Linked DNA regions of Homo sapiens: regions 1, 2, 3 and 4 are each linked to region 5. Evidence: fine-mapped expression QTL. A gene starts in region 5. Each other region holds a variant in brackets. All regions are shown on one strand. Distances are between the middles of the regions.

Region 1 (5,100 bases), 320 kb after region 5:
TTGCGAGGCTGATGTGGGAGGATCGCTTCAGCTCAGAAGTCAAGGCTGCAGTGAGCTATGATTGAACCAGTGCACTCCAGCCTGGGCAACAGAGCAAGACCTTGTCTCTAAAAATTAAAAATAAAAAAATAGGCCAGGCATGGTGGCTCACGCCTTTAATTCCAGCACTTTGGGAGGCCGAGGCAGGTGGATCACTTGAGGTCAGGAGTTCGAGACCAGCTGGGCAACATAGTGAAACCCTGACTCCACTAAAAAAAATGTAAAAATTAGCCGGGAGTGGTGGCGTGCACCTGTAGTCCCAGCTACTCAGGAGGCTGAGGCAGGAGAACTGCCTGACCCCAGGAGGTGGAGACTGCAGTGAGCTGAGATCGCACCACTGCACTCCATCCGGGGCAACAGAGTAAGATTCTGTCTTAAAAATATATAAAAAGAGGCTGGGCGCAGTGGCTCACACCTGTAATCCCAGCACTTTGGGAGGCCAAGGAGGGCGGATCACAAGGTCAGGAGATCGAGACCATCCTGGCTAACACGGTGAAACCCCGTCCCTACTAAAAACACAAAAAATTAGCCAGGCATGGTGGTGGGCGCCTGTAGTCCCAGCTACTCGGGAGGCTGAGGCAGGAGAATGGCGTGAGCCCGGGAGGCAGAGCTTGCAGTGAGCCGAGATCACGCCATTGTACTCCAGCCTGGGTGACAGAGTGAGACTCCGTCTCAAAAAAAAAAAAATATATATATATATATATATATATACACACACACACATATATATACACACATATATATATACACACACACACATATATATATATAAAGAAATAATTTTTTAAAAAGACAATAATGAGGGTGGGGTGCAGTGGCTCACACCTGTAATCCCAATGCTTTGGGAGGCTGAGACGGGTGGATCACTTGAGGCCGAAAGTTCAAGACTAGCCTGGCCAACATGGTGAAACCCCACCTCTACTAAAAACACAAAAATTAGCCAGACATGGTGGTACACACCTGTAATCCCAGCTACTTGGGAGGCTGAGGCAGGACAATCGCTTGAACCTGGGAGGTGGAGGTTGTAGTGAGCTGAGATCGTGTCACTGCACTCCAGCCTGGGCAACAGAGCGAGACTCCATCTCAAAAAAACAACACACACACACACACACACACACACACACACACACACACGACATTAATGAATGTAATCTAGGTTGCTGGTTTGTTATTCCCTTTTTTTCTTTTTTGAGATGGAGTCTTGCTCTGTTGCCAGGCTGGAGTGCAGTGACGTGATCTTGGCTCACTGCAACCTCCACCTCCGGAGTTCAAGCAATTCTCCTGCCTCAGACTCCCGAGTAGCTGGGACTCCAGGCACGGGCCACCACGCCCAGCTAATTTTTGTATTTTTAGTGGAGACGGGGTTTCACCATGTTGGCCAGGATGGCCTTGATCTCTTGACCTCGTGATCCGCCAGCCTCGGCCTCCCAAAGTGCTGGGATTACAGGCATGAGCCACCGTGCCTGGCCGCTTTTCCCTTTCTTTGTGATCCCACCTTCTTTAGTTAGATGTCTAAAATGAGCAGAAAAAATAATGCTACGACCTGGGAAATTTGAGTGTTTGCTCAGATTCCCGTTCAGAAAGCAAAGCTTTGCTAAAGCAGCAGTTGGCATGTCCTGTGCAGGCTTCTTACCTTGCCTGTTCCCTTCCTTTGCCTAGGGGGTCACTATATCTACCTTGAGGCTGACGAGTTCTCCCAGGCAGGCCAGTCAGTCAGACTGGTGAGCCGGCCCTTCTGCGCCCCAGGTGACATCTGCGTGGAGTTCGCATACCACATGTATGGCCTTGGGGAGGGTACTATGCTCGAACTCCTCCTGGGAAGTCCTGCGGGGAGTCCCCCGATTCCTCTCTGGAAACGCGTGGGGTCTCAGCGCCCTTACTGGCAGAACACCTCCGTCACCGTCCCCTCAGGACACCAACAGCCCATGCAGGTGAGAGACGGAGGCGGGGGTCCTGTCTGTGTGAGGTGAGAGGGCCAATGCCTGGGATCTGGGGGCGCCACCAGTGCTGAAGAGGTGGAAAGCTGGAAAGAGAGCCGAGAAAAGGGGAACTTCGTGTTACAGAAAGTGAGAAAGGGGCCGGGATGGGGCTGGACTGTTGAGGCTGGAACAAGGCGACATTTTGGCAGAGAACAGATTCTATGCCCAGTGGAATCACAGAGTTGCTGGAGATTCATTTTTGTTTCTCTCTCCGTCTCTCTCCCTTGTCGCCTTTAGCTTATTTTCAAGGGCATCCAGGGAAGCAACACGGCCTCTGTGGTTGCTATGGGTTTCATCTTGATCAATCCTGGGACTTGTCCAGGTAAGACCAAAGCCCAGGCTCCAGGAAGGGGGCGGTGCCCTGAGGTTCCCTGGAGTTCTCTCTATGAACT[G/C]CTTAAAATGTGAGTCCTCCCTGGAGCCCGAATTCTCACCCAGCTGGCTTTGTTTTCCATCTTCAACACACCTCTCCTTCCCCTGCACTTCAAGATGTTTGCCTGGGTGAATGTGGCTTCGATACCATGGATTTTGGGGGCTGGATCCAGAACTCCTTCCTCTGCAGTCTTGAAGGCTGGACCCATATCCTATTCATTTCTGGCATAATATCTGACATATATTAGTGTTCGTTGAGTGGATGAAGGTTGGGGTTTGGGAGTAGAAAGAGAGGTGTGAATAAGCCACCCATGGGAGCCCACTCCAGTTAGATGGCAGTAAAGAGGGTGGTGGTATGGTTTTGACTAAACTCCAGGGATTCTTATTTTTCTTTGCAGTAAAAGTGCTACCAGAGCTTCCTCCCGTATCTCCAGTTTCTTCCACTGGCCCTTCTGAAACCACTGGCCTCACAGAAAACCCTACAATCTCCACCAAGAAACCTACAGTTTCCATAGAAAAACCCAGTGTCACCACAGAAAAGCCCACAGTCCCCAAAGAAAAGCCCACCATTCCCACAGAAAAACCCACCATCTCCACAGAAAAACCCACCATTCCTTCAGAAAAACCCAACATGCCCTCAGAAAAACCCACCATTCCCTCAGAAAAACCCACCATCCTCACAGAAAAACCCACCATTCCCTCAGAAAAACCCACCATTCCCTCAGAAAAACCCACCATTTCCACAGAAAAACCCACCGTCCCCACAGAAGAGCCCACCACCCCCACTGAGGAGACCACCACCTCCATGGAAGAGCCTGTCATCCCTACAGAAAAACCCAGCATCCCTACAGAAAAACCCAGCATCCCCACGGAAAAACCCACCATCTCCATGGAAGAGACTATCATCTCCACAGAAAAACCCACCATCTCCCCAGAAAAACCCACCATCCCCACAGAAAAACCCACCATCCCCACAGAAAAATCCACCATCTCCCCAGAAAAACCCACCACCCCCACAGAAAAACCCACCATCCCCACAGAAAAACCCACCATCTCCCCAGAAAAACCCACCACCCCCACAGAAAAACCCACCATCTCCCCAGAAAAACTCACCATCCCCACAGAAAAACCCACCATCCCCACAGAAAAACCCACCATTCCCACAGAAAAACCCACCATCTCCACAGAAGAGCCCACCACCCCCACTGAGGAGACCACCATCTCCACAGAAAAACCCAGCATCCCCATGGAAAAACCCACTCTCCCCACTGAAGAAACCACCACCTCTGTTGAAGAGACTACCATCTCTACAGAAAAACTCACCATCCCCATGGAAAAACCCACCATCTCCACAGAAAAACCCACCATCCCCACAGAAAAACCCACCATCTCCCCAGAAAAACTCACCATCCCCACGGAAAAACTCACCATCCCCACGGAAAAACCCACCATCCCCATTGAAGAGACTACCATCTCCACAGAAAAACTCACCATCCCCACAGAAAAACCCACCATCTCCCCAGAAAAACCCACCATCTCCACGGAAAAACCCACCATCCCCACGGAAAAACCCACCATCCCCACTGAAGAGACTACCATCTCCACAGAAAAACTCACCATCCCCACAGAAAAACCCACCATCTCCCCAGAAAAACTCACCATCCCCACAGAAAAACCCACCATCTCCACGGAAAAACCCACCATCCCCACGGAAAAACTTACCATCCCCACGGAAAAACCCACCATCCCCACAGAAAAACCCACCATTCCCACAGAGAAGCTCACAGCCCTGAGGCCACCCCATCCCAGCCCCACAGCCACTGGGCTGGCAGCCTTGGTGATGTCTCCACATGCTCCAAGTACCCCTATGACCAGTGTGATTCTGGGCACTACCACAACCTCCAGATCCAGTACAGGTATGAGGTGGATGGAGCGTGGGCCAAGGCTGAAAGTCAGAGACAATGACTAGGAGACAGTCAGGGAAAGGGATGCTTCTGGTAGAAGCCTTCTAGTTGCTTCTAGATGCTTCTAGTACTCTCAGAGGAGAGCTGAAGTAGTCCATGGCGACTTCAGAGGAAATGGGGAGGACTGCCCAGAGCGAGAGGGATGGCAGGGCTGGAGTGGGTGGGGGTGTCAGGACTGAACCACGAGGCTTCCTTCTCGTTGTTTGTTATTGAGATATAATCCATATTTCATAAAATTCACCCTTTTAAAGTGTACAATTCTAGGCCGGGCACGGTAGCTCAAACCTGTAATCCCAGCACTTTGGGGGGCCAAGGCGAGAGGGTTGCTTGAGCTCAGGAGTTTGAGACCAGCCTAGGCAACATAGTGAGACCCTGTCTCCACTTTAAAATTAAAAAAAAAAAAAAATTAGCTGGGTGTGGTGGCGCACGCCTGTAGTCCCAGCTACTCGGGAGGCTGAGGTGGGAGGATCACTTGAGCCTAGGAGGCTGAGGCTGTAGTGAGCCATGATTGTGTCACTGCACTTCAGCTTGGGCAACAGAGCAAGACATCGTCCTAAAAAAAAAAAAAAAAAAAAAAAGCAAAAGCAATTCTGTGGGTTTTAGTATATTCCTAAGGTTGTGCAACCATCATCACTTTCTAATCCAAACACTTTCATCACTCCAAAAAGAAATCCTATACCTATTAGCAGCCACTCCCCACTCCGCCTTCCCCCAGCCCCTGGCAACCACACATTTCTTTCCTATATCCA
Region 2 (5,100 bases), 77 kb after region 5:
TCTCTCTACCACCTCCACGTTGCGTCCAGGATGGGGTGAGGAGCATGTTGGCTGGGACTCGTCCAGGCCACACACTGACCTCTGCCACCACCCTGGGGGCAGTCTTTGCCACCATGAAAAATGGCTGGGAGCCAGGAGCCACAGGGTGGAAGCACCAGAGATGGTGTCACCACCATTTAAAAAAATTTCCACTGACCCGCCGGGCGCGGTGGCTCATGCCTGTAATCTCAGCACTTTAGGAGGCCAAGGGGGGCAGATCATGAGGTCAGGAGTTTCAGACCAGCTTGGCCAACATGGCAAAACCCCAACTCTACTAAATACAAAAAATTAGCTGGGCATGCTGGCACGCTCCTGTAATCCCAGCTACTTGGAAGGCTGAGGCAGGAGAATTGCTTGAACCCGGGAGGTGGAGGTTGCAGTGAACTGAGATTACGCCACTGCACTCCAGCCTAGGCAACAGGGCGAAACTCCATCTCAGAAAAAAAAAAAAAATTTTCCACTGACCAAGTGGTGACCTCATGCTGATGTTTTTTGATGTTCCTGCCTTAAAGCCCAGGAATGGGTGTGAGAGCAACATGTACACATTCCAGAAATTTCAGAGTAATGAGGGGGAAACCTGAAAAGATTAGAACTAGAGGGGAAATTTTAAAGATGCGCACTATTTATTTCACTGCCCATGTAGATCTGAAGTTATTTTGCTCGCTAGTAACATCAAATGTAGCCTTGTATTTGGGTCGTAAAGCTGTCATGGTTGGTCTACTTACAGATATGAAAATCTAAAAAAATGGAGAACACTTCCCCCCATTTAGATTGGTGGCTAGGTGAAGCAAAAAGGCTTACAGTGGCTGGGTGCCGTGGCTCATGCCTATAGTGCCAGCACTTTAGGGTGTTGAGGCAGATGGATCACTTGAGGCCAGGAGTTCGAGACTGGCTCGGGCAACATAGAGAGACCCCCGTCTCTGCAAAAAATAAAAAATAATAATTAGCCAGCCGTGGTGGCACATGCCTGTAGTCCCAGCTACTCAGGAGGCTGAGGTGGGAGGATCGCTTGAGCCCAGGATTTCAAGGCTGCAGTAAGCTATGATCACACCACTGCACTCCACCTTGGGCAACAGAGCGAGACACCCTGTCTCTAAAAACAAAAACAAAAATCTATCTGCAGACACCCTGTCTCTAAAAACAAAAACAAAAATCTATCTGCAATTGAACTCATTACTTCCCCAACCAGCCCTCATGTCTTGGACTGACCATCTCAGCCAGTGTCATCACATTCAGTCTCCCAAGGCAGAAACTTTTTTTTTTTTTTTTTGAGATGGAGTCTTGCTCTGTCACCCAGGCTGGAATACAGTGGTGCAATCTTGGCTCACTGCAACCTCCGCCTCCCAGGTTGAAGTGATTCTCCTGCCTCAGCCTTCCGAGTAGCTGGGATTACATGCGCGCGCCACCATGCCTGGCTAATTTTTGTATTTTTAGTGGAGACGGGGTTTCGTCATGTTGTACAGGCTGGTCTGGAACTTCTGACCTCAGATAATCCTTCCGCCTTGGCCTCCCAAAGTGCTGGGATTACAGGTGTGAGCCACTGTGCCCGGCCTTAAGGCAGAAATCTCTATGTGGAAGTACATGGTTTATTTCTCTCTGACACACACCCATTATTAATTAAGATGTCAGTTTACCTCTTTCAAAACAGACCCAGGCTGAGCATGGTTGCTCACACCTGTAATCCCAGCACTTAGGGAGGCCAAGAGGGGCAGATCACTTGAGTTCAGGAGTTTGAGACCAGCCTGGTCAACATGGCGAAACCTCATCTCTACTAAAAACACAAAAATTAGCTGGGCGTGGTGGTGGGCGCCTTTAGTCCCAGCTACTTGGGGAGGCTGAGGCAGGAGAATCGCTTGAACCTAGGAGGCGGAGATTGCAGTGAGCCAAGATCACGCCACTGCGCTCCAGCTGAGGAGACAGAGCGAGACTCCGTCTCAAAGAAAAAACAAACAAACAAAAAACCCAGACCCAAAGAACAGTGGTTTAACCTAAATGGGGGATTACATCTTGCTCATATAAGGGTCCAGACATTAGCAATCCATAACAGATACGGAAGCTGCAGTTCATCAGGAGCCAGGCTCTTTCTAACTGGTTGCTCTGCCGTTCCTAGGGTTCTGCTTTTGTTCCACAAAGTCTGAGGGGCTTTACTATCAGGTCCACTTTGTACTCAGCAGGATGGTGCTTGCCTGGGGTACAATAGACATGACAATTAACCCTCAAAATACCTAAGAGGTAGTGGTTTTATTAGGTTGAACTATATGAAATTGCCATTTTGGGGTCAAATATAATAGAATATTGGCAATTTTATGTCATTCAACCCAGTGGTATCTCTGAAGATAAAAGCTCTGACACACAGAGAGGTCAAGTAACCTGCCCAAAGTCACACAGCAAGTGAATGGCAGAGAGGGGCTTCAAATTCAGAGCCTCCCTGGAAGCTGGGCCCGAGGAAGATTCTTCAGTAGATAAGGCTTGGTTCCTGTCCCCC[A/G]TGCACTTATAACCTACTTGCAGGGCAACATATGAACACTGGAACTGTAATCACAGTTCAAAAGAGAAACAAGTTTGATACAGCTACATAAGAAACTCATGAGGCCTGGCGTGGCGGCTCACGCCTGTAATCCCAACACTTTGGGAGGCCGAGGCAGGTGAATCACTTGAGCCCAGGAGTTCAAGACCAGCCTGGGCAACATGGCAAAACCCCATCTCTACTAAAAATACAAAAATTAGGCCAGGCCCGGTGGCTCACACCTGTAATCCCAGCACTTTGGGAGGTCAAGGTGAGTGGATCACGAGATCAGGAGATCGAGACCATCCTGGCTAGCACATGAAACCCTGTCTCTACCAAAAATACAAAAAAAAAAAAAAAAAAAAAAAATTAGCCGGGCATGGTGGCAGGCGCCTGTAGTCCTAGCTACTCGGGAGGCTGAGGCAGGAAAATGGCATGAACCCACTTGCAGTGAGCCGAGATCACGCCACTGCACTCCAGCCTGGGCAACAGAGCGAGACTCCATCTCAAAAAAAAAAAAAAAGAAAAACAAAAATTAGCCAGGTGCGGTGGCACATACCTATATATATATATTAAAAAGGAGGTCCCTGCCAATCCAATTAGCTGGTAGAACAAGACTTTTTTTTTTTTTTGGAGGTAGGGTCTCACTCTGTCACCCAGGCTGGAGTGCAGTGGCATGATCAAGTCTCACTGAAACTTTTGCCTCCTGGGCTCAAGCAATCCTTCACCCCTGTCTTCTGAGAAGCTGGGACTACAGGCACACACCACCATGCCTGGCTAATATGTTTTGTACTTTGTAGAGTCGAGGTTTCACCATGTTGCCCAGGTTGGTCTTGAACTCCTGAGCTAAAGTGATCCGCCCACCTCCACCTCCCAAAGTGCTGGGATTATAGGTTTGAGCACTCGTGTCCAGCCAGTGTTACAACTTTTATTGAAGCTTCAGTGCACAGCCGCAGCAAAGGTACGGCTCCTTGCAGAGCAGGGATGACCCATAGGCACTGTGTCCAGAATAGCAGCTGAGAGGCAGACCTAAACTCATTTATGCCCATTTTTAATTATATGCAAATTAAGGGGTGGCTTATGCAGAAATGTCTAGGATGAGGGTGGTAACTTCCAGGTCGGTAGGTGGTTGCCATGGAAAGGGGAGATAACTTCTGGGTGTTGTCATGGCAACGGTAAACTGACATGGCACTCTGGAAGGGATGTCTTTATGGAAAGCTGCTTCTGTCCCAACCCATTTTTAGTTGGTCCTCAATTTGGTCTGGTGTCCGTGCCCTGCCTCTGGAGTTGAGTCTTGCCTCCTACCTCAACAATCATTTTTTCTTTTCTTTTCCTTTCCTTTCCTTTTCTTTCTTTTCTTTTTTTTTTTTTCTTTTTTTTGTAAGACAGGGTCTCACTCTGTTGCCCAAGCTGGAGTGCGGTGGTGTGATCATGGCTCACTGCAACCTCAGCCTGCTGGGTTCAGGAGATCCTCCCACCTCAGCCTCCCAAGTAGCTGGGACTACATCGCGCACCACCACACCTGGCTAATTTTTGTACTTTTGATAGAGACAGGGTTTTGCCATGTTGTCCAGGCTGGGATAATTCTTTAATTCTGTGCTATTTAACAAAAGTGTGAGGTGCTATCTATGTAGACTTGGGTCTTCATCACGCTTGGTGGTGTGTGCCTGAGTGAGCGTACATACTTCCATAGCCCATGGATTTCTTTCTTTTTTCTTTTTTTGCGATGGAGTCTCGCTGTGTCGCCCAAGCTGCGGTGCAGTGACCCAATCTCAGCTCACTGCAACCTCCACCTCCCGGGTTCAAGCAATTATCCTGCCTCAGCCTCTGGAGTAGCTGGGATTACAGGCATGTGCCACTACGCCTACTTTTTGTATTTTTAGTAGAGACGGAGTTTCTCCATGTTAGCGAGGCTGGTCTCGAACTCCTGACCTCAGGTGATCCACCGCCTCGGCCTCCTAAAGTGCTGGGATTACAGGCGTGAGCCACCACGCCCAGCCACCTGTGGATTTCTTTATGTCTCTCCACCTTCTCACTTTGAGTTTATATGAGGCTGGGTTATGTCTTTCTGTGTTTTCCTGGGTCTTGGCATTTGTTTCTATCTCTTCCCCTCTCTTTCCTTCTGTCCTTTGTTTCTCCATCACACTGTCTCCTGACATCGATCTCTTCCTGTATCTTTGCTCTATAATTGCCCCATATAAATCCTAAGGATATATTTTATTGTTCATTGCACATATTAAATAGTTTGATGTGCCCTGCCCCTTAATTTAAAATGCAAAGAACAGGCTGGGTGTGGTGGCTCACGCCTGTAATCCCAGCACTTTGGGAGGGTGAATCACCTGAGGTGAAGGTAGGCGAATCACCTGAGGTTGGGAGTTCGAGACTAGCCTGACCAACATGGAGAAACCCCATCTCTACTAAAAATACAAAATTATCTGGGCGTGGTGGCACATGGCTGTAATCCCAGCTACTCGGGAAGCTGAGGCAGGAGAATTGCTTGAAGCCAGGAGGCAGAGGTTGTGGTGAGCTGAGCTCGCGCCCCTGCACTCCAGCCTGGG
Region 3 (5,100 bases), 150 kb after region 5:
ATTTTATGGGAGAAAATTCTAGAACCTATCCCCGCCCAAACCACCGAGACTACACACTTCTGGGCTTTCTCAGCTGAAACCCTGATCCTGTTTCTCTACAGAGTTCGTGCAAGAATCTCTAGAGTCTCAGGTAGGCTGCGGCAGGGCCACCTTTCTGCCAGTGGTGACATTTACATGGACCGGCACCCTCCCCCACACACCTGCAGTGCATTCTTTGTGTCTCCTCTGAGCCAGACAACTACCCCACCCAGCCCAGAACTGAACTCCTGGAGCCCCAGCACAAGAGGTGTGGGGCTAGTGTCCCCTAAAAGTGAGGTGCCCCTACTTACTCCCCCGCCTGCTTCCTATACATTCAGCCCTGCACTGCCATGCAGACCACCCACCCACTCATTAAAGGGGCTCTGCCCAGTCAGCCCAGAAATGCCTTAGGTCATGGATACCCTCGCCCTCCGCCTAACACAGCAGGGGGTGATCTGCAGTGAGACAGAAAGAGACCCCATTCCTGCCTCTATGACTTACTCTGCTCCCAGCCACACGGAGCCTGTTTTGCAAACCAACACTGTTTTATTGTCAACACAACCAGCCCACTCTGCCCTGAGAAGGCTATGGACAATGGGTGTCTGGGGTCTGTGGGAGAGAGAGGTCAGCACCCTGAGAACTGCTGGGGCTACCACAGGGGCTGGGTGGGTCAGAGGTATGGTCTGGGGGGCCAACCGCGGAGGAGCTGGGCCTAGGCTCCCCCTGGCTCATCTGCAGCAGGCCAGTGAGAGCGATCAGCTCCGGCCCGCTGAGCCAGGCAGTGGAGGGGCCCCGGGAGGGTGATGGGCGGGGGAGCACCCTGGCAGACATGATGGGGGGCGGCGGCAGCAGTTTCAGGGAGCCCATCATCTGAGGAGAGAGAATGGAATGTGTTTCCTGCCAGGCAAGCCTGGAGGCTGGGGTAAGGACAGGGAGGGGAAAGAGCTCTCACCTGCTGGGGGGCCTTGGACAGGTACAGGGGAACACGCTGCCCCCGGGGCAGCAGAGGGTCCGAGAGGAAGACATCTTCACAGCACACCACCGGGAACCCTAGGAGGAAACACCACTAGGGTGGCGGGCTGCGGGCTCCCACCCCTGGGCACTGGTTCCCAGAGGAGTTGGGGCAGCCTTGCGCCCCCGGGGGACCAAGGGAGGTACCTGCATCTGGGGGCGCCTGCTGTCCATTCCAGTGCCCTGTGGCAGGGGCCACGGGCCTGAGACCCCTGCCCGAGGCTGCTTCATACAGCGGCCAGAATGAGGGGTGACACAGCGTCCGGCCTGAGAACGAGGCTCCTGAGCTACAGTTGGCCCCCTAGGGTGAGGAGGACAGAGCACTGGAGCCTCAGGCCACCGCACAGCTCCCTGAGCACCCCAGCCAGTCCCACAGGTTTGCCCCCAACTCACCCACACCGGCCGAGGTCCTGCTTTGGCTTCATACTTGGGGTCCCAGGGCGCTAGTGGAGTCATCCTCGAGGGGGCCACCTCCCAGGCCACCTGGGGGGAACGGGGATCTGGGGGGACGCTTGGGGATTATAACAGGCTCACAGTCAGTGAGAGGCTCTTAGGGGTAGTAGAGGCAGCAGGGCCTGTCCTACCTGGGGCTCCGGGGGGCTGCTCAGTGGCCGGGCCTGGCAGGTGGTGGGGCAGCAGCAGCTGCTCTCTCCAGATCCAGGAAGGGCTACGGGATGGGGGCTGTGGGCTGGAGGGGCAGGGACTGAGGCTGCAGCCACACCGCCCCCACGCACCCTCCCCTGGAGCCCAAGGGTGCCTGGTGCAAGGGAGACCGAGGGACCCAATCTCCAGCAGGGACAATGGAGAAGCCTCCGTAGAGCGCGTGGTGAAGGCATGGAGGCCCCCAGTCGCTGTCCCCCCACGGCTCCGTCCGAGCCCCTCACCTGTCCCATGGGGGTGTCCCCAGCTCCCTGGGGGCGTCCGCTCCGGCGCTCCAGGGCTCGCCCTGGTCCTTGCCCGCCGGAAGGCCTGGTCCCTCGGGCGCCTCCTCCGGGCCCGCGCCCCACCGCGGCGGCGACCAGGGCAACATTCCGCGTTCCCGAGCGCAGGACGGTACCGCCGTGTCCCCGCCGCCCGGCCCGGCCCTCTCAGCCTCCCTCCGCGGCGCGGCGCGAACGTGCCCTCCTGGCGAACCCACCCCAGAGGCCTCGCGGCGACGCTGGCGCCCTGTGCGTCTCCCGGCCACGTGGCGCGTGCCCCCGCCGGGCTCCCGCGGGCGCCCCCTGGCGACTGGGCGGTGAATTCCGGAAACAGAGGCCCCCCCAACAACCCCGCGACGCACGTGCTCTCAGACACAGTTACACCTGAGGGCCACCCAGAGG[G/A]CTTCTGGCTTCTGTTTATTGCGGCTGACACGACACCTGCGACACCCGCGGTCCTTCCACCCAGACCCTCGACCCCAGAGGCAGCCAGGCCGGCAGGCCAAGGGTGCCCAGGCCCAGGCCACCCTCACCACGTGCTTCTCTGAGAGCGCGGAGCCCAGGCGCGTCTTCTGCTCCCGGGGTCCCGGGCGGGGTGGGCCCTGTGCCCCCACCTTCACCCCTAAGGCCGGTCCAGCAGGGCGTGGACGACAGCAGCGATGTAGGGGAGGCCCCTTCCCGGGGCCCCCTCCTCTTCCAGGATGTGGTGGGGCTGGCACAGTGACTCCTGGGGGAAGGGGCCGGGTTAGCTTCCCCACGGTGCCCCCTGCGGCTTCCGGCCTGTGGCAGGGGGTCGGGGGCAGACCCGAGCATCACCGTGCGCTCGGGGCTCGGCGACAAATGAGACGCAAGAAAGCTGTCAGCGATAACAGAAGGGAGGTGACACGGGGGGTTGGCGGACGCTCCGGGAGCATGAGAGGCCGGCATCTCAGGAGGGAGATGCTGGTGGGCACAGAGCCATGGCCACAGCCACCAACACGCGGAGCAGACGCGCGCGCGCGCGCACACACACACACACAGGCAGGGCGGCCACGGTCTGTACAGTTTATACACAGAGATAGGGACCCGGCCTGGGCCCCGAACCCCTACAAATATAGATCCTCTCTACAAAATAGAGATAATTTAGCCCCCCCATAGCAGCTGTTGGGGGGGGAAGGGGAGGGCACAGGAGGAAGGGGGAGACTCCAGCTCCTGCCACCCCTCACGGGGTACAGAGGGCAGGGGCAGGGCCGGCGGGGACATGAAGGCACCGTCAGCACTGAGAGGTGGGGACTCGTGGGGCTACTGGAGGGAGGCCAGAGGCTGGGGGCCCAGGGTCTGGGGGCACCAGAGTGGGGCCTCTGAGGTCAGTGTCTGTGAAGGGGGTGCACTAGTGTCTTTGGTTGGGGCTGAAGGCACCGCAGGTGGGGTCGGGTGGAGCAGGGACCTTATAAATAGAGAGGAAGGGAAAGGGGTGAGGGAGGGCCGATTTTGGGGCCTAGGAACCCAGGAGCCGAGTGTAGGTGACATAGAGCAGCAGCATGAGGACCACGTAGAAGACGACGAAGCCGCCCAGACCAGAGGGGGGCCAGAGGGGCGGTAGGGCCTTGCCCCCCACCCGCTTCACGGCCTCCAGCGCGGTCCGCAGCCCCCGGGCAGTGCCCTGGAGGAGATCCGAGGGCGAGCACAGGTCAGCCTGGGGGAGAGGAGAGCAGGTGGACAAGGACAAGGGACAGACGTCAGCAGCAGCAGCAGGACAGTCCCTCCCACCCCTGCCCTCACGTGCTGGGGCCAGAACCACGCCCACATGCTGACGTGCTGGGCAGGGGGAGTGCAGTGCAGGAGGAGTGCAGGGCAGGGCATGTGCAGGACAGGTGACATGCAGGACAAGATGGGGCCTGCAGGGCAGGGGATGTGTAGGACAGGTGACATGCAGGGCAGGGGGCATGCAGGGCAGGGGGCATGCTGGGCAGGGCAGGGGCAGCCTGTGCCTTCATCTGAGAGCAGACATCCGCTGCAAATGGAAGCCCACCATCCATGCCACATGCTCGGCTGAGTCCGGCATGCCACCACTCTTTAGAAAGCAGCCCCCATACCTCAGGCACCCCCATTTTTCGACAGGCTTCTAGAAAACTCTCCACATTCTTCCGAGCCTTGAGGGCACTGAGTTTTGGCTGGGGTGGGTGAAAGAAGAAAATGTGGTAAGGGAGAGGCCACAGGCGCCCCGGCCCATCCCCCACCTCTTCCCCAGCCCCAACTGACCACAGCAGGGGAGGGCACATGGATGAAGGGCACGGAGCGCGGCCGTAGCTGGTTGGCCAGCTGGCACAGGATGACCCCACTGGCCAGAGCCTCGGCCAGGTCCTCAGGCAGGGGCCGCTGCAGCCGGGACTCAAGGACCTGGCAGTGTAGACCACATAGAGCAGGGGTCAGGGAAGGAGAGGCGTCTGGGAGGCAGGGAGAGTGGGGGGCTCAGGGCTAGCAGGGAACTTGTGCCTGTCCCTTCCTGTCCTCAGGGGAGGTGCCAGAGTGGGCACAGAGGATGTGGAGGGAGGCTGGTCCCAAGGACAGCAACACAAGGAGGTGCCCGGCCCAGGCCCCTGCCCACGCAGCTCCCGCCTCTGCTCACCTGGCGCAGCTGAGTCATTAAGTCCTTCTCATCTGGAACCTGGGGGTACCGCCGAGGTCTCAGGACAGAGTCTGGTGAGGAAGGGCCTAGGAGAAAAAGGGGGGCATGGGGCTGCCTCCACTGCTCACCACTGACTCTGTAGCTGGGTCCCAGTGGCCTGGCACCTACACCTCCTGCCTCTCTGCTTGTGGGATTTTTTTTTATTTCATGGAGATGGGGTCTCGCTATGTTGCCCAGGCTGGTCTTGAATTCCTGGGCTCAAGCGATCCTCCCACCTGGGCCTCCTAAAGTGCTGCGATTACAGGTGTGAGCCACCACACCCGGCTTGCTTGTGGGATTTTCAACGCAAAGGTACAAAAGGTACAACAGACCCAGAGGGCTCCCAGGGCAGAAGGGTGATGTAGCCGTTGGTGCTGGCAAGCACTGGGTCAGCACTGGGGAGGGCAGGACACCCACCTGAGCCACTCTGAGAGGAGGAACGGAAGAGGAAGCTGTTTGGTCTCTGAATGGAGCCAAGTGGCCGTGGAGCAGGTGCTGTCGCTGGGG
Region 4 (5,100 bases), 570 kb before region 5:
CACTTGGCTATCCAGTTGTCCTAGGACCATTTGTTGAAAAGACGATTTTGTCCCCATTCAATGATCATGACACCTTCCTCAAAATTCAGTGGACCAGAGACATGTGGATGTATTCTGGACTGTAAATTCTATTCTGTTGAACTATACTTCTATCTTTATGCCAGTATCACATTGTCCTGATTATTAGAGCTTTGTGGTAAGTTTTGAAATTGGGAAGTATGAGTCCTGCAACTTGATTCTTTTTCAACATTGTTCTGGCTACTCTGCATCCCTTACAATTCCAAATCAATTTTAAAATCAACTTGTCAATTTCTACAAAGAATCTAGCTAGGATTCTGATAATACATTAAATCTGCAGATCCATTTGAGAAGTATTGCCATTTTGACCTTTTTAAGTTTTCTAATCTGTGAACACGGGGTGGTGATTCCTTTTATTTAGATACTCTTTCATTTATTTCAACAGTGTTTTGTATTTTTCAGAGTCTGGGTTTTGCACTTTTGTTAATGTTATTCCTGATAAGTGTATCACTAATATTTTGATGTTATGGTAAATACAATTTTTTAATTCCACTTTTGGATTGTATATTGTAACGTACAGAAATACAGTTTATTTCTGTATATTGACCTTCTATCTTCAAATATTTCTGAACACATTTGTTAGTTTTAATAGGTAAATAGAAGTGCTGAGAGAGGTATCCTTGTCTCATTCATGATCTTAGGGGGAAAGGTACTAAGTATGGTTAGCTATGGGTTTCATAGATGCCCTGTATCAGGTGGAAGAATTCTCTTCTATTTTTAGTTGCTGAGTGTTTTTATCACAAAAGTCTTTTGGATTTTTGTCAAATGCTTTTACTCATACTGAGACGATTGTGTGTTTTCATTTAATTGACATGGTATATTACACAACCTTGTTTCCCTGGGGTAAACCCCTCTTGGTTATGGTATATAATTATTTTTATATGTTGCTAGATTGATCCAGTTTGCTAGTATTTTGTTAAGGATTTGTGCATTTATATTTACAAGATATGTTAGTCTGTAGTTTCTTTATCCTGTGATATATTTTTCCAGTTTTAATATGATGGTAATACTGGCCTTATAGAATGAATTTGGAAATGTTCCCTCATTTCCTAGTTTTTGAAAGTGTTTGTAGAATGGATATTAATTCTCCTTTAAATATTAGGTAGAATTCATTATTGGAACTATCTGGCCTGGCCTTTTCTTTGTGGGTAGTTTTGATTACTGATTCAATGCCTTTATATGTTATAGATCTATTCAGATTGTCTGTTTCTTTCCAACTCAGTTTCTGTAGTTTGTGTCTTTCAAAGAATTTATCCATTTTACCTGTTATCTAATTTATACAATTGTTCTAATAATAAAATTGTTAAGAGAATATCCTTATGCTAATTTTTATTTTTCTTAAATGTCAATAGTAATTATTTCCCTTCTTTTATTTCTGAGACTAGTAAACTGAGTCATCTCTTATTTCTTCATCAATGTAGCTAAAAGTTTGCCAATTTTGATGATATTTTCTTTTGTGGTAAAATTTGAGCTTTTTTTTTGAGATGGACTTTTGCTCTTGCCGCTCAGGCTGGAGTGCAATGGCACGATGTTGGCTCACTGCAACCTCCACCTCCTGGGGTCAAGCTATTCTCCTGCCTCAGCCTCCAGAGTAGTTGGGACTACAGGCATGCAATACTATGCCCGGCTAATTTTTGTATTTTTAGTAAAGACAAGGTTTTTACTGTTGGTCAAGCTGGTCTCGAATTCCTGACCTCAGGTGATCCACCTGCCTCGGCCTCCCAAAGTGCTGGGATTATAGGCGTGAGCCACCGCGCCCAGCCTTGAGCTTTATTTTTTATTTTTAACTTTTGTGGATACACAGTTGGTGTATGCATTTATGGGGTACACGAGATGGTTTTGATACAGGCATGAAATGTGAAATAAGAGCATTATGGAGAATGGGGAATCCATCCCCTCAAGCATTTATCCATTGAATTGCAGACATTCCAATTGCACTCTAAATGATTTTAAAATGTACAGTTATTATTGACTGTAGTCACTCTGTTGTGCTATCAAACCATAGGTCTTATTCATTCTTTCTAACTATTTTTTGTAACCTTTTATTATCCTTACCTCCCCCGCCCCCACTACCCTTCCCAGAGTCTGGTCACCATCCTTCTACTCTCTATGTCCATGAGTTTTGAGTTTTGATAATTTTTTTTTTTTTTTGAGACAGAGTCTCAAAAAAGTTGCGTGATCTAGGCTCACTGAAACCTCTGCCTCCCGGGTTTAAGCAATTCTCCTTTCTCACCCTCCTGAGTAGCTGGGATTACAAGTGTCCACCACCATGCCCAGCTAACTTTTGCATTTTTAGTAGGGACGGGGTTTTGCCATGTTGGTCAGGCTGGTCTAACTCCTCACCTCAGGTGATCCACCCGCCTCAGCCTCCCAAAGTGCTAGGATTACAGGCGTGAGCCACCGCGCCCGGCTGATGATATTTTCAAGGAACCAATTTTTGGTTTTCTTTATTGCTTTTAAATCTGTATTTCATTAGGTTACACTTTAGTTTTTATTATTTTCCCCCTTTCTGCTGGCTTTAGTTTTACTTTGCTCTTCATTTTTCAGTGTGTTATGGTATACATTTAGGTTATTGATTTGAGATTATCTGACATTCACAACTATAAATTTCCCTCTGAACATTGCTTTGGCTACATCCCATA[C/T]GCTTTGGCATATCATGTCTTCATTTTTCTTCATCTCAAAACAATTTCTAATTGTCCTTTTGCTTTCTACTTCAGCTCATTGGTTACTTAAAAGTGTATTGTTTAACTTCCACATATTTGTGAGTTTTCCAATTCTCTTTTCTCTCTCTCTCTTTTTTTTTTTCTTTCGAGAGACATTTTCATTCTGTCACTCAGGCTGGAGTACAGTGGCACAATCTCAGCTCACTGCAACTTGCGCCTCCCTGGTTCAAGCGATTCTCATGACTGGGTCCCAAGTAGCTGGGACTACAGGCACATGCCACCATGCCCGGCTAATTTTTGTATCAGTAGAGATGGGGTTCCGCCATGTTGGTCAGGCTGGTCTCAAACTCCTGACCTCAAGCAATCTGCCTGCCTCAGCCTCCCTAAGTGCAATTCTCTTGCTTTTATTGATTTCTAGTTTCATTCCATGGTAGTTGAAGGACATTTGCCGTATTGTTTCTATCCTGACTACTATTTCATGGAAAAACATGATTCATTAAAGCAGCAGGCTATCCAAAGAGACTCTAGTCCAGTAGATAAAGGCTAAGAAGTCAGGGAATTTAATTCTGTTCCTTTGGTCACTCTGAAGATGCAGAAGGGACCACTGATCTCACTGCTATAGTGGAGGCCCCTATGTGTGGATCTGCTCTTGCTCAGCCATTGGCATGGAAGAGGGGCAAAGGTCATACAGGAAGAGGGGCAAAGGTCATACAGGAAATGGATCCTGGTTGAGAACCCTGAAGTCTATAGGTAGAGAAAATTGTAATTGTTGTAGGTAAATTTCACATTTTTCACTATGATTTATTTTTTCTTTTTCTATTTAATTTTCCTATAGCACTCTTTCCATTTCTTACCCCAGTTTTTGAAGCCCTAAATATCGGTTTGTTTCCAAAAGATGTTACCCATTTTTTAAAAAATTCCATTGAAAGGATGAAAGAAAGTCGCCTCAAAGATAAACAAAAGGTAAAATCTGGTGGTGGTGACATGAGAATGTTCACTTTTTTATTATATTTTTGGGCTGTTTACATACGATTTGTGCACTTATCTGTGTTTTTTAAAGGCAGCTAGAGAACTTTAGACCAAGAGGGTTTTTACATTTTGCTGGGAATAAAGAAGGTGAAGCTTGGGGAAGAAAGAGAATGAGTGAAACAGCATTTGGAATTTAATAATAGGCATGACTTTAGTATATTATGGCATAAATAATGTAGAGATAGAAGCTTTACCGCTTCTCTTCCTTTCAGTAAATTGTCAATAAATTTGACTGTATAAAGTTGCCAATAAATCTGACTGGATAAAAATGACTGATAAAATTATTTTATGGGTATTACAATTTCCCTAGTTCTTATATTAGTAAGGAATCATTTCAAGTCCAAGCCTGTTATTTTTACACCTTCTTCAGCAGGAGTCCCTACCAGGCTACCTGCAGAAGTAAGTGTATGTTAAATTTCAGTCCTGTCATAGCCTGGACTGGGCAGGGGTCTTCTCTGGGCATTGTGGGTGCAAGCTGACTGATCCAACTTTGCCTTTATGAGCCCTGGAGACCAGCCCGATGATGATGCCTCAAAGTCAGGAATGCAGGACTGGGTCCCCTAGGTGACACTGAACGTTGTATAGAGTTCTAGGAGTGGGGAGTATTTGAAGATGCATTCAAATCAGCTCCCCTGGGATTATCCAGAGATTAATCTATTTGTCCATTGGTTAAGAATAAAAGCAGCAGAACAAATAGGATTGAAATTCAGGACTTCTTCCTGTTCAAGAAATTATGACTAGAGAATGAGCTGACAACTCTTTGGCCAGGAAGTTGTGTCCAAAGGCCAGAGAAGCTGAGGATCAGGGAGAGCAAAGACTAAAAAGCAGATAGACATGACAAAAGGATTTCTCTCAAGGAAACATCCTGCTCTCCAAGGTTTTAGATGCATGATTTTATTCTAAACATTGGTGACTCAGGCAACACCCATTACACTTCTGAACTTAAAGAGAGCATATTCTCAGGAGGGGTGCTTAGGACTGGACTCCTGATTCACTTCTGACTTCACAAGTGACTTTCTGTCATTAAAATTTCTCTTTTTGCTTCCAGCATCGAGTAGATTTCTTTCAACAGATGATCGACTCCCAGAATTCCAAAGAAACAAAGTCCCATAAAGGTAACCAAGAACTGCATCTGGGGGCTACTGATGGGGACACTCAGAGAGAAGGCCCTGTTCTGAAAATGTGCAGAAAGTTTTCCAGGAAAATGAGAATTTCTTCCACATTGCAGAAAGGCACACATTTGGATGTTATAAATGATAGCTGGAGGCACTTTCTAGAAGCACACAGGCATAGCCACATTCCAGGCTTGAAGGGCAACCCTGAACAAGTG
Region 5 (5,100 bases):
TATTTTTCATAAAAACCTGTTTAGGTTAACATATTTATTATTGTTATTTCTAATCAAACTTTAAATGTTTCTGAATTTTAATTTCTAAAATGTTAGTATCAACAGATACAAACCAAATAAAAGCTCTTTGGAGTCCTCCATAAATTTTAAGGGTATAAAAGGGTTCTCAAACCAAAAAGTTTGAGAACTGACCTAGTGAAATAACTTGTCAGTATTGCCAATACTTTTTTAAATAAACAGTAATTCTCTCTCCCCACACACCATTCAGAATGTGTTCCCAAATTTCCTCTTCCTAACCATCCAATCATTCCCTTCCTTATATTGTTCCTCAAATCCTTGGTCTAAGAGAAGTAAACCCTTTAGCATTGTCCTCTAACCCAGACTCCCTGAGCCTCAAAAAAGCGGTATTTAAAGAGTATATTTCAGCCGGGCGCAGTGGCTCACGCCTGTAATTCCAGCACTTTGGGAGGCCAAGGCAGGTGGATCACCTAAGGTCAGGAGTTCAAGACCAGCCTGACCAACATGGTGAAGCCCCATCTCTACTAAAATACAAAAATTAGCCAGCGTGGTGGCAGGCGCCTGTAATCTCAGCTACTTGGGAGGCTGAAGCAGGAGAATCACTTGAACCCAGGAGGTGGAGGTTGCAGTGAGCCAAGACCGTGCTACTGCACTCCAGCCTGGGCAAAATGAGTGAGACTCTGTCTCAAAAAAAAAAAAAAAAAAAAGTATATTTCAAATCTTTTTTAAGCCAGAGTCTGATCTTCCTTTTTGCATTAATAACAGTATGTGGACTCCTGCTTATTTTCATGCCTCAATTAACTAATAGCAGTTTCCTCCCTCCCTCTCACTTTTTCTCCCTCCCTCTCTCCCTCCTTTACTCCTTCCTCCCTCTTCCCTCCCTCTCTTCCTTCTTCCCTCCTTCTGTCTCCCTTTGTCCCTCCATCCCTTCCTCCCCCTCCTTCTCTCCCTCCCCCTCCTTCCTTGCCCTCCTCCCTTTCTCTCTCCCTCTTCCCTCCCTCCTCCCCCTCTCCTTTCTCCCCCTCCTCCTTCCCTTTCCTCCCCCTCTCCTTCCTACCCCCCTCCCCCTCCTCCCTTCCCTGCTTCCCCTCCTTCTTCCTTCCTCTCCCTCCCTCCCTTCTCCCTCCCCCTCCTCCCTCCCCTTTCCTCCCCCTCCTCCCTTCCCCCTTTCCTCCCTCCCTCTCTTCTCCTTCCCTCCCTCCCGTTTCCTCCCCCTCCTCCCTCCCTCCCCTTTCCTCCCTCCCTCTCTTATCCTTCCCTCCCTCTCTCTTCTCCTTCCCTCCCTCTCTCTCTTCTCCTTCCCTCCCTCCCCTTTCCTCCCCCTCCTCCCTCCCTCCTCCCTTTCCTCCCTCCCTCTCTCTCTTCTCCTTCCCTCCCTCCTTCCTTCCTCCCCCTTCCCTCCCTCCTTCCTTCCTCCCCCTTCCCTCCCTCCTTCCTTCCTCCCCCTTCCCTCCCTTGCTTTCTTCCTTCGTGTTTGTGCACAAGCTCAGCAAGCCCGATTTAAAACTTTTAACAAGAAAGAAGAGGCGGGTGGATCACCTTAAGTCAGGAGTTCGGGACCAGCCTGGCCAATACGGTGAAACCCCGTCTCTACTAAAAATACAAAAAAATCAGCCGAGCACGGTGGCGCGTGCCTGTAATCCCAGCATTTTGGGAGGCCAAGGTGGGCGGATCACCTAAGGTCAGGAGTTCGAGACCAGCCTGGCCAACATGGAGAAACCCCGTCTCTACTAAAAATACAAAATTAGCCGGGCACAGTGGCGGGCGCCTGTAGTCCCAGCTCCTCGGGAGGCTGAGGCAGGGGAATCGCTTGAACCCAGGAGGTGGGGGTTGCAGTGAGCCGAGACTGCGCCACTGCACTCCAGCCTGGGCGACAGAGCGAGACAGTCTTTAAAAAAAAAAAAAAAAAAGCCCCAATTCCAAATCCACCTGCAATCCAAAGGGAAGAAGTTTTGCAGAGAAGTTCTTCCCATTTGTGGGGCGCTCCCATTTTTCCTCTCTTCCCTCACCCCTTATTCTCTCTCAGGGATAGCGGTTCAAGTCGGTGTCCCTGAGCCACACGTCCCCCTCTCTCTTCCCCGTCCCCTCCCTTCCTTCCTCCCACCATGAGGGAATCTCCCCTCCACCCCCACTCCTGCCGAGGCCCCGTGATCCTTATTCTCACTCATATCGTTGGTGCCCGCCAGGAGACTGGGCTATTTTTTTTTTGTCTGTTTCTTGGGGGCGACAGATTCTGAGGAAAAAGGGCGAAGGGCTGGTTGTCGCCCTGAGAAAGTTTCTCCTCAGGCAACGGGTGCCAGGACTGGCAGCGCCTAGCACCTTCACCTACAACCAGAAACTAGCTGGCTACCTTCAGGAGCAAGGAGGACCTAAAGGCGATGGGCGGAACCAGCTGCCGCAGCGACTCCGCAAGCCCCTCACACCTCAACCCAGGTTTCCCGCCACCAAGAAAAGGCACGAGGACGCCCTGAGCACTAGCTCCACCCGAGGGCGGTGCGCTCGCGGGGCCGAGGCGCATGCGCAACTGGAAACAGCGTCTGCGTTTCCGCAGCTGAGGTAAATCCGCCATCTTCCACCCGAACGTCCCGGGAAAACTACAAATCCCAGAATCCTCTTTGGTGTCACATATTTTTAGGCGGCGGCCGCGGCGCCTGATTGTTCCTGAAGCACATCTACTAACTTTTCTGTTTCAGACTGCCTTTTCCTCCCTCTTTCCGTTCTCTAATTCCTCCTCTTCCTGCTGGTCTCCTTCACGCCCTCACCTTAGGATTTTGAGACTCTCCTGGACCCCACTGTCACCCCTGCCGCCCTGTCCTCGGCCCAGCACTCCGCTGGCAGGGAGACCGGGCGGCGCATCTCCCCGGGAAAACGGCGTAGACTCGCTTCTTCCTCATTGGCAGAAGCTGGGGGGGCCCAGCGCGGACCGAACCCCCGTCCCCGCCCACACTCGCTGGTATATAAGTCGGCGTGGCGCCGCGGTGGGTGTTGAGAGGCCCGCGAACTGACGGGCCAGTGAGCGGGCGTCGGGAGTGGGCGGATGCGTTGGGGTTCGGGTCGTGGGTGTTGAGGCGGAGAGGAAGGCGTGGTGTGGCGTCTCCAGGTGATTGCGATTGGGGGAAGGTAGAGGAGCCAGAGAACGACTCAGCCGTTTCGGGGGAAGAGGAAGTTGGACAACATCGGCTGTTTTAGTGCTTTTTATTTTTCCCCAATTCAGCAGAGAATATTTTCAAGGGGGGTGAGTTATAATGACCTATCGCGTTTTACTGAGCCCAGTTCCACTCCCGCCCTTCCTTGGCTTTGTAGGGTCTCCCCTCCGCTCCCTCGGAAGCGCTTCTAAGAAGGTGGGCAGAGGGGGGGAGGTTTGCTACCAACAGCTCATGAATAATTCATGAGCCCCGCCCTTCGTCAGGAAGCCCCGCCCCTCCGGATCGCGCTGACGCACGCTGCGTTTACCAAACTTAAGGAAGCGACGTCACAGGCCCAACCCCTAAGACGGGGGGCGGGGCGCCAGTTTCAGCACGTGCTGCCTCTACCCGCGCAAGCCCAAAAGGGTGTGCGCAGGCGCTGCCCACTAGGGGGGAGGAAGGAGGCGGGGTGGGGAGGTTGTTGGATTTAGAGCCGGGCGGAGACCGCTGAGACTCATTCCTCAGGAACAAGGGTCGGGTGTCAAGGAGACCTTTTCACACCAGCTCCCGTCCCCCGCCTACGGTGGGTGGGATCGCGCGGCAGAGACAAAGGAGATCAGTAGGGCCGGACATAGCTGCGCAGGGAAGTAGGGTGTCAGTTTGGGGTGGTGGGCTTTTGCGGGGGCTGTGGGGGGGTTATATTTAAACTCCCAGAGCCGTTAAGTTGGTTCGTAGTCTGATGCGCGCGCAACCAGGGTGGTGGCGGAGTGCGCATGCGTGGTTCCCGGGCGAAGGGAACGCGCGCTCACCGTGCGCGCTCGCGGCCGGGTGGTAGTGGCGGAGGAGAAAGGGGTCGGCGCACGCGCGGTTGAGTCCTCGAGTAGTTCGGGTCTCGCGGGCCTCTTGTTTTGGTCTCGCGGGCTAGTAGGGCGCACTTGGCGGGGAGGCGCTTGGGCGCGAGACTAGGCGTGAAGAGCAGAGCTGCGCGCGCACTCGGGAAAGGGGGGAAGGGAGCAGGGTCCAGGCAGGGGGGGTTAGGCCCCCTGATCCCCCTCGTTACCCCGACTGGCACGGAATAAGGGGAGGAAATGATCGAGATGGCGGCGGAGAAGGAGCCGTTTCTGGTGCCGGCCCCGCCGCCGCCGCTCAAAGATGAGTCGGGCGGAGGGGGCGGCCCCACGGTGCCACCGCACCAAGAGGCCGCCTCTGGGGAGCTCCGCGGCGGGACGGAGCGTGGTCCGGGTCGTTGCGCGCCATCTGCGGGGTCCCCAGCCGCTGCGGTCGGTCGGGAAAGCCCCGGGGCCGCGGCCACCTCCTCCAGTGGTCCCCAGGCGCAGCAGCACCGAGGGGGCGGCCCCCAGGCGCAGTCGCATGGGGAGGCCCGCCTGTCGGATCCCCCGGGGCGAGCCGCTCCCCCGGACGTGGGGGAGGAGCGCCGGGGAGGGGGCGGGACAGAGCTGGGTCCCCCTGCTCCTCCTCGACCCCGCAATGGCTATCAGCCCCACCGGCCACCTGGGGGGGGCGGGGGCAAGAGGAGAAATAGCTGTAATGTAGGGGGAGGCGGGGGAGGCTTCAAACATCCGGCCTTCAAGAGGCGCAGGCGGGTGAATTCGGACTGTGACTCTGTGTTACCCTCCAACTTCCTCCTGGGGGGCAATATCTTTGATCCCCTGAACCTGAATAGCCTCCTGGATGAGGAAGTGAGCCGCACTCTCAACGCGGAGACCCCTAAGTCATCCCCCCTTCCGGCCAAAGGGCGAGATCCGGTGGAGATCCTCATCCCCAAAGATATTACTGACCCGCTCAGTCTCAATACTTGCACTGATGAGGGCCATGTAGTTCTTGCTTCGCCACTCAAGACTGGTCGGAAGCGGCATAGACACCGGGGACAGCACCACCAGCAGCAGCAGGCAGCCGGAGGGAGTGAGAGTCACCCCGTGCCGCCCACAGCCCCTCT

The links. PIP is the estimated chance that this variant, and not a neighbour inherited with it, causes the effect.
Region 1: its variant is fine-mapped to the expression of ZCWPW1 in amygdala (GTEx, PIP 0.95).
Region 2: its variant is fine-mapped to the expression of ZCWPW1 in whole blood (INTERVAL, PIP 0.97).
Region 3: its variant is fine-mapped to the expression of ZCWPW1 in whole blood (TOPMed, PIP 0.99).
Region 4: its variant is fine-mapped to the expression of ZCWPW1 in whole blood (INTERVAL, PIP above 0.99).

The regions. Positions count from the first base shown.
Region 1 is chr7:100,748,927-100,754,026 of GRCh38, forward strand. ZAN (zonadhesin) reads left to right here. Exons shown (of 48, transcript NM_003386.3): 12 at 1,699-1,970; 13 at 2,256-2,340; 14 at 2,786-4,303. Among named protein-coding and RNA genes, the nearest start is that of ZAN, 18 kb to the left of the region's middle. The variant G/C (reference allele first, on the strand shown) is at 2,411.
Region 2 is chr7:100,503,030-100,508,129 of GRCh38, forward strand. No RefSeq gene overlaps it. Among named protein-coding and RNA genes, the nearest start is that of NYAP1, 22 kb to the left of the region's middle. The variant A/G (reference allele first, on the strand shown) is at 2,525.
Region 3 is chr7:100,571,684-100,576,783 of GRCh38, forward strand. It overlaps SAP25 (Sin3A associated protein 25), which reads right to left and starts at 2,217. Exons shown (of 6, transcript NM_001348680.2): 1 at 1,914-2,217; 2 at 1,614-1,717; 3 at 1,423-1,529; 4 at 1,177-1,330; 5 at 971-1,068; 6 at 545-888. The coding sequence starts at 2,059. The coding sequence ends at 604. LRCH4 (leucine rich repeats and calponin homology domain containing 4) reads right to left here. Exons shown (of 18, transcript NM_002319.5): 14 at 5,011-5,094; 15 at 4,555-4,640; 16 at 4,188-4,325; 17 at 4,022-4,099; 18 at 2,328-3,621. The coding sequence ends at 3,424. RefSeq lists enhancers at 1-149, 3,081-3,635, 3,636-4,189. The variant G/A (reference allele first, on the strand shown) is at 2,352.
Region 4 is chr7:99,852,015-99,857,114 of GRCh38, forward strand. It overlaps CYP3A43 (cytochrome P450 family 3 subfamily A member 43), which reads left to right. Exons shown (of 13, transcript NM_057095.3): 8 at 3,577-3,704; 9 at 4,819-4,885. Among named protein-coding and RNA genes, the nearest start is that of OR2AE1, 22 kb to the right of the region's middle. The variant C/T (reference allele first, on the strand shown) is at 2,721.
Region 5 is chr7:100,425,788-100,430,887 of GRCh38, forward strand. It overlaps ZCWPW1 (zinc finger CW-type and PWWP domain containing 1), which reads right to left and starts at 2,916. Exons shown (of 18, transcript NM_001386010.1): 1 at 2,781-2,916. It overlaps MEPCE (methylphosphate capping enzyme), which reads left to right and starts at 4,044. Exons shown (of 4, transcript NM_019606.6): 1 at 4,044-5,100. The coding sequence starts at 4,232. RefSeq lists silencers at 2,394-2,443, 4,264-4,733 and enhancers at 2,604-2,833, 3,854-3,993, 4,864-4,943.